Linked DNA regions of Homo sapiens. The protein of the gene in region 1 purifies or fractionates together with the protein of each later gene. This does not show direct contact. Each region holds a gene or a part of one and is shown in the gene's direction. Other genes may lie near its edges.

Evidence for each region.
Region 2: the proteins of GBA2 (region 1) and RDH13 purify together in Homo sapiens (affinity purification with mass spectrometry; one large-scale study listed by BioGRID and IntAct). This does not show direct contact.

Annotation. Positions count from the first base shown.
Region 1 is NC_000009.12:35,738,941-35,742,749, reverse strand, and holds part of GBA2 (non-lysosomal glucosylceramidase), read left to right. Parts: intron 1-841; coding exon of another isoform or gene 842-859; coding exon 860-1,078; intron 1,079-1,685; coding exon 1,686-1,925; intron 1,926-2,121; coding exon 2,122-2,224; intron 2,225-2,387; coding exon 2,388-2,541; intron 2,542-2,626; coding exon 2,627-2,752; intron 2,753-2,949; coding exon 2,950-3,122; intron 3,123-3,330; coding exon 3,331-3,435; intron 3,436-3,640; coding exon 3,641-3,748; intron 3,749-3,809. UniProt on the Homo sapiens protein: Non-lysosomal glucosylceramidase that catalyzes the hydrolysis of glucosylceramides/GlcCers (such as beta-D-glucosyl-(1<->1')-N-acylsphing-4-enine) to free glucose and ceramides (such as N-acylsphing-4-enine).
Region 2 is NC_000019.10:55,046,133-55,049,941, reverse strand, and holds part of RDH13 (retinol dehydrogenase 13 isoform 1 precursor), read left to right. Parts: intron 1-1,178; coding exon 1,179-1,283; intron 1,284-1,400; coding exon 1,401-1,613; intron 1,614-1,684; exon of another isoform or gene 1,685-1,896; intron 1,897-2,453; coding exon 2,454-2,555; exon of another isoform or gene 2,556-2,837; intron 2,838-3,809. UniProt on the Homo sapiens protein: Retinol dehydrogenase with a clear preference for NADP. Oxidizes all-trans-retinol, but seems to reduce all-trans-retinal with much higher efficiency. Has no activity toward steroids.

The DNA of each region.
Region 1 (3,809 bases):
GACTGTGAGACCACATCAGTGCTAAAAGGAGAGGGGTGGATAGTATACTGTGGAAAAAGGGACGGTGCTGCAGATTTCGCTCATTCCCTCCACATACATGCCAACTCTGAAGAAGGGTGCATCAGTGAATTAAAAAATGTCCCTACCCTCAGAAGAATCCATACAGCAGTCAGGGACACAGAATGGTCAGTCAATACATTATAACATAATACACCAAATGCTAGAATAGAAGGGGAGGGGGGCACACATAATGACTCACTGCTGGAAGAAGTAGAGGAGGAAGAGATGGCTTTTGACCTAGGCTTTGAAGGATGAGAGGTTTCACCAGATAGCGAACAAGCATGAGCACAGGCATGGAGGAGAGAATGTAGTGTGCTCAAGGAACAGTGAGTGTTTTTATATGAACAGACTATAGGTGCTTGAACAGGTGATGAGTCTGATGGGCAGGGAGAGGCCAGCTCAAGAAGGGCCTTGAAAGCCAGGCAAGAGTTGAGACTTTAGCCTGAGGGCCATGGGGAGTCACTGAAACATCCTAACCAAGGACTGACATATCTTGATTTGCCTGTGAGAAAGATCACTCTGCTACCCAGATGAAAAGGGCCACAGAAAAAGCAGGAGATTGGGCTTAAGTGAGGTGCTAACACCACCGTAGTGGAGAAGGGAGAGAAAGCTTGGGAGATAGATGGATGGGGAGGTAGCAGGACTTGGTGATTCACTGAGCCTGGGGGATGACTTGAAGCTGATGGTGCAGTGGTAACAGTTGCAGGCTCTGAAAGGGGAGGAGCTGATTTGAGGAGAGGGAAGACTTAGTCTGTGGTCCCTGTGGTTTACCCCGTTCCAGCCTATCTGCCCTCTTAAGTTCACAGTGTGCCTGCGTCGGGAAGGGCAGACTGTGTACCAGCAAGTCCTGTCCCTGGAGCGCCCAAGTGTCCTCCGCAGCTGGAACTGGGGCCTGTGTGGGTACTTTGCTTTCTACCATGCCCTCTATCCCCGAGCCTGGACTGTCTATCAGCTTCCTGGCCAGAATGTCACCCTCACCTGCCGTCAGATCACACCCATCTTGCCCCATGACTACCAGGTGAGGCCCCCACATCTGTATCTTCCATTGCCCTCCCTTCCCCAGGACCTGCCTCTGCTAGAAACTGCATGGCCTGCGAGGCGCGGTAGCTCACGCCTGTAATCCCAACACTTTGGGAGGCCAAGGCAGGCGGATCATGAGATCAGGAGATCGAGACCATCCTGGCTAACACGTGAAACCCCATATCTACTAAAAATACAAAAAAAAAAATTAGCTGGGCGTTGTGGCAGGCACCTGTAGTCCCAGCTACTCGGGAGGCTGAGGCAGGATAATGGTGTGAACCCGGGAGGCGGAGCTTGCAGTGAGCCGAGATTGCGCCACCGCACCCCCCAAAAAAAAAAAAAAAGAAACTGCATGGCCTGTGAAAGGGAGGTTGGAGCCATGAACATCACACTGGCTTCCCAGAACCACCGCCCAACTGGTTCTGGTCTTCTATATTCCCTGCTAGGCAGCTTGCCTGGGAATATGGGGAGATGCAAGTGGACAAAAGAAGAGTACACTGGGGAGTATTTGAGTCAGGTCCTCTGTGTGCCCAGGACTGATCCTAGCAGAGTGGGGTCAGGAGGCGCTCTACTGGGACCGTCTGAGTCTAATCTTCTGCCCCCAGGACAGCAGCCTGCCTGTAGGAGTCTTTGTGTGGGATGTGGAAAATGAAGGGGACGAAGCTCTAGATGTGTCCATCATGTTCTCCATGCGGAATGGACTGGGTGGTGGAGACGATGCCCCAGGGGGTTTGTGGAATGAGCCCTTCTGTCTGGAGCGTAGCGGGGAAACTGTCCGGGGGCTGCTCCTGCATCATCCAACCCTTCCAAACCCCTACACGATGGCTGTGGCTGCACGAGTCACGGTAAGGAAAGAGCCTGCCCTATACCTTAGCCCCTGAACCCCACCTCCACCCCAGCATGGTCTCTTCATCCACCCTCATCATACTCCTGTAAGCCCCTGGGCCTGGGAGGTTAAGAGTAAGTAAGAGGAGCTGGGGAGCTAGCCGGGACCCAGTGTACTCGTGGAGCCTGCCCTCACAGTCCCTGACCCCTTCACAGGCAGCTACCACGGTAACCCACATCACAGCCTTTGACCCTGACAGCACGGGGCAGCAGGTGTGGCAGGATCTACTTCAGGATGGACAGCTGGACTCTCCCACTGGTGATGGGGGGTCTGACTGGGAGATGGTGGGAAGAGAGGTTGTCCCTGTCTTGGGACCAGGGGTGGGAGGCCTGGTAATAAGTAGGCCTTGTTTCCATGTTAGGGATCCCTATCCCTGGGGCTGAAGGGGCTCCTGTCCTGAATTCTCTTGTGTTTCTCTCAGGCCAAAGCACCCCTACGCAGAAAGGAGTAGGCATTGCTGGAGCTGTGTGTGTTTCCAGCAAGTTGCGACCTCGAGGCCAGTGCCGCCTGGAGTTTTCACTGGCTTGGGACATGCCCAGGATCATGTTTGGAGCTAAAGGCCAAGTCCACTACAGGTGAGGGGACCAAGAAAGTGTAAGGATCCAGAGTGCTGGGGCTCTGACCTGGGGCTTGTGTTCATCCTTCCCCTTCCCACCCCAGGCGGTATACAAGGTTCTTTGGCCAGGATGGAGATGCAGCACCTGCCCTCAGCCACTATGCACTGTGCCGATACGCAGAGTGGGAAGAGAGGATCTCAGCTTGGCAGAGCCCGGTATTGGATGACAGGTGCCAGTGGGGCCCATTTCTTGCCTTTCTCCTGGGCACTCACTCCAAATGGGACTCCTCGATTTACTCTCCACCCACCAAAGTCAGTAGACTTGCACTGGGATTCATTTGATGATCCCACTCTGCTGAACCCCCAAATCCTTTCCATCTTGGGAGGTACATGTTCCTTAAACCATTTCCTCCTCCTCGCTTCCCAGATCACTGCCTGCCTGGTACAAATCTGCGCTGTTCAATGAACTATACTTCCTGGCTGATGGAGGCACAGTGTGGCTGGAAGTTCTTGAGGACTCCCTACCAGAGGAGCTGGGCAGAAACATGTGTCACCTCCGCCCCACCCTACGGGACTACGGTCGATTTGGCTACCTTGAGGGTACAGGATGCTGGTGGGCTGGGATATGGCAGGCCATCCCCAAGTCAGGATGATGGATTTGCCTACCCCAGGGTATTGGTTAGGATGAGGGGGTGTTGGGTGTGGACTAGTAACAATGCCCCACCTCTAAATCTAGAGGACAAGCTACAGAGGGGTTTGAAGGGGAAGCAGGAATTCTGGCAACAGTGTGTCTCATTCATTCCTCCAGGCCAGGAGTACCGCATGTACAACACATATGATGTCCACTTTTATGCTTCCTTTGCCCTCATCATGCTCTGGCCCAAACTTGAGCTCAGCCTACAGTATGACATGGGTGAGGATCCCTTTTGTGCCGCTTCTGCCCTCTTGGCTCCCCATACCCCCGAACTTCTGTGGTCCCTCAGATTGTCTCTTCTTTCCCTTCCCTTCATACGTATCTGCATGCTGCTTACTGGTTCCCCACTGCAGTCACACACATAGCTGTGTGCCCCTCCTCAGGCATGCCCATTCCCTGCCTCCCTTCTGTGTCTCTCCCCCAGCTCTGGCCACTCTCAGGGAGGACCTGACACGGCGACGGTACCTGATGAGTGGGGTGATGGCACCTGTGAAAAGGAGGAACGTCATCCCCCATGATATTGGGGACCCAGGTAAAAGTCCACCCCAAGGTCAGCTTCCCTCCCTCAACTTTTGCACCCTCTACCCTATCCA
Region 2 (3,809 bases), on another chromosome or scaffold:
AAGGGAAGAGGGAGAGAGGAGATGGTCACCTGTGAGCCAAGGAGAGAGACCAGAGCGGATCCTCCCTGAGGGCCCTGAGAGGGAACCAGCCCTGCCCACACCTTGATCTGGGACTTCCAGCCTCTGGGACTGTGATTTTTTTTTTTTTTTTTGAGATGGAGTTTTGCTTTTATTGCCCAGGATGGAGTGTAATGATGCGATCTCGGCTCACTGCACCCTCTGCCTCCTGGTTTCAAGCGATTTTCCCGCCTCAGCCTCCTGAGTAGCTGGGATTACAGGTGCATGCCACCACGCCTGGCTAATTTTGTATTTTTAGTAAAGACGCGGTTTCTCCATGTTGGCCAGGCTGGTCTCAAACTCCTGACCTCAGGTGATCTGCCCACCTCGGCCTCCCAAAGTGCTGGGATTACAGGCGTGAGCCACTGTGCCCGGCCAGGTCTGTGAGGTTTTAAACCACCTGTCTGTGGCACTTTGTTACGGAACCCGAGCTGAGTGGTACAGGGAGGAAGGCCCTGTGGTTCAGCGCATTTTACAGCTGAGGAAACTGAGGCTGCAGTCTCCATCTGTGTGTCCTTTGGTTGCTTGTATGAGTGAGGTGGCAGGTTTGGGAATGAAACCACGCCTGCGGTGCCGGGGCTCCCACCGGTAACCTCCCGTTTTTGGCCTCGGGGCTCCGGCAGGAAGGAGTCCCAAGGCTTAGATGGAGGTGCGGAGGGCGTGTGAGTGTCCTGGAGCTGCTGTAACAATGTACTGCAAACCCAGTGGCTTACACCCTCAGACGTGCATTCCCTCACGGTTCCGGAAGCCGGCAGTCTGAATCGCGGTGTCCCTGTGGCTGTGACCTGTGAGACGGGCCATAATCCTCCCAGCCTCTTCCACTTCCAGCGGGGGCGGCCCACCCTCACCTTGGAGCTGTGCCTCTCCGGTCTTTGCCTCTGTCCACACATGGCCTTCTCCCCATGTGTCTCTGTCTCTGTTTTCCCTTCCTATAAGGACACCAGTCATTGGATTAGGGCTCACCCTAATGACCGCATCCTGACATGGCCACTTCGGCACAGACCCTGTTTCCGGCACAGGCCACATTCACAGGTTGTGGGAGCACAGGAGTGTTTCTGCTGGTGCATCAGGCTGGGGTCTGTCCTCACCGGGATGTCTCCTCCTCCACCCCTCTCTTCCAGAGGAGGAGCGAGTGGACATTCTAATCAACAACGCGGGTGTGATGCGGTGCCCCCACTGGACCACCGAGGACGGCTTCGAGATGCAGTTTGGCGTTAACCACCTGGGTGAGGCCTGGGCAGGGGCTGCACCATGGGTTCAAGCGATCCTCCCCCGTCGTCCTCCCAAAGTGCTGGGATTTTAGGTGTGAGTCAAAAGTGACCTTTTCATCATCCTTAATCCAGGTCACTTTCTCTTGACAAACTTGCTGCTGGACAAGCTGAAAGCCTCAGCCCCTTCGCGGATCATCAACCTCTCGTCCCTGGCCCATGTTGCTGGGCACATAGACTTTGACGACTTGAACTGGCAGACGAGGAAGTATAACACCAAAGCCGCCTACTGCCAGAGCAAGCTCGCCATCGTCCTCTTCACCAAGGAGCTGAGCCGGCGGCTGCAAGGTACGGGGGCGCTAGGCTCGGCCTCCCTCTTGCTTTACTCTGAGCCTAGAGCGGCCTTTCCATGATCCTAGGCTGATGGGAGGCCAAACGGTGGATCCAGAACAGAGTCAGCAAAAGTAGAGCATGTGGACCACGCTGCCCGCTTCTGGTGCCTGAAGCAGACATCACTAATCGATCGTTCTTCTGAGGATTGTCTGTTCATCCCAGGTGGTCTAGTCTGCCTGGATCAGATGTCCTTCCCTGCTGCTGTTGGGCAGGCAGCTCAGCCTTTTGGCTCCAGCCAGTGAGTCTCAACCAGGGGCAGTTTTGACCCGCAGTTGTCAATGCCTGGAAACACAGTGATCACAGCTGGCTTGGGGAGAGATTGCTCTGGGCATCTGGAGGGTAAAGGCCCAGATGCTCTCAATGTCCTACAGCGCACGGGATGGCCCCTCACTCCTCCCAACCCACAGCATCCACAGTGCTGAGATTGAGAAATCTGTGCTAGGCCTTTGCTTCTGAAAGACGGTCTGTGGACCAGCGGTGCCAGCCCCACTGGGAGCTGGTCAGAGTTACAGTATCTTAGGTCCCACCGCCACGCACCGATGCAGGCTCCCGGGGTAAGCTCAGCGTTCTGGGTTTATGAAGCCCTCCAGGAAAGCTCGGCTCCCAGCAGCCATGTGGCAGAGCCGCTCCGCAAGATAAGACCACTTCACTAAGATTCCAGAGCAAGAGGGACGATGGGGTTTGAGTGCAGGAAGCAGCCTGGTGCCCGGAAGCCCCACAGCTGGGTGTGGGCTGCCACAGCCTCCCAGGTGAGGCTGGACCCCTCCCTCAGTCTTCTCTTTCTTTCTTCCCCAGGCTCTGGTGTGACTGTCAACGCCCTGCACCCCGGCGTGGCCAGGACAGAGCTGGGCAGACACACGGGCATCCATGGCTCCACCTTCTCCAGCACCACACTCGGTGAGTCCCCTCCCAGCCTGGGGTCTCCACGTGGAGCCCTCCACCCCTGCTTTCTCAGCCCAGGGCCCAGGACCCTCCCTCAGAGACCGTCCCTGAGGCCTCATGCCTGCTCCTCGCCTACGTCTTCTGAGGCACAGAGCACAGGTCCCTTTCCTCCGTTGACCTGGCCTGCCAGCCTCTAACAGCCCCGGGAAGCAGGCAGAGCCCTGCTGGCGGATGAGAAAACCGTGTCTCAGAGGAAGAGGCCGTGGAGCTGACGCCTGGAGTCAGGCTGTACTCAGGGTAACTCCAGCTTCACCCCAAACCAGCTGCACCTCCTGGGGAAGAGCTGTTACCCCTCTGAGCCTGTTTCTTCATCTGCAGAGTGCAGGCCTTAATAGGACTCACCTCACAGTCACTGGGGGGGTTATACGAGACCTTCCTTGAAAGGGCCAGCACAGGACCCCGCCCAGAGAATAGGTGGAACAAACAGTTGGAGCTTTACTTACTTATTTTTGAGATGAAGTCTTGCTCTGTCGCCCAGGCTGGAGTACAATGGCATGATCTCCACTCACTGCAACTTCCACCTCCCAGGTTCAAGCGATTCTCCTGTCTCCAAGTAGCTGGGATTACAGGTGCACACCACCACACCCAGCTAGAGGTGGGGTTTCACCATATTGGTCAGGCTAGTCTCAAACTCCTGACCTCAGGTGATCCAACTGCCTCCCAAAGTGCTGGGATTACAGGTGTGAGCCACCACCCCCAGGCAGTTCATGCTTTATGACTAGTGTTTATAATCCTGAAAAACATGGAGTGGGTGATTGGTTGGCATCAAGAATCTTAACTTGGCGAGGCTAATAGCCACGCCTGTAATCCCAGCACTTTGGGAGGCTGTGGTGGGCGGATTACCTCAGGTCAGGAGTTCGAGACCAGCCTGGCCACCATGGTGAAACCCCGTCTCTACTAAAAATACAAAAATTAGCCAGGTGTGGTGGTGTGCACCTGTAGTCCCAGCTACTCAGGAGGCTGAGGCAGGAGAATCGCTTGAACCCGGGAGGCAGAGGTTGCAGTGAGCTGAGATCACACCACTGCACTCCAGCCTGGGTGACAGAGCAAGACACCAGGTCTCAATAAATAAATAAATAAATGTCTTTTTTTTTTTGAGACGGAGTTTTGCTCGTCACCCAGGCTGGAGTGCAGTGGCACAATCTTGGCTCACTCCAACCTCTGCCTCCTCGGTTCAAGTGATTCTCCTGTCTCAGCCTCCCAAAGTAG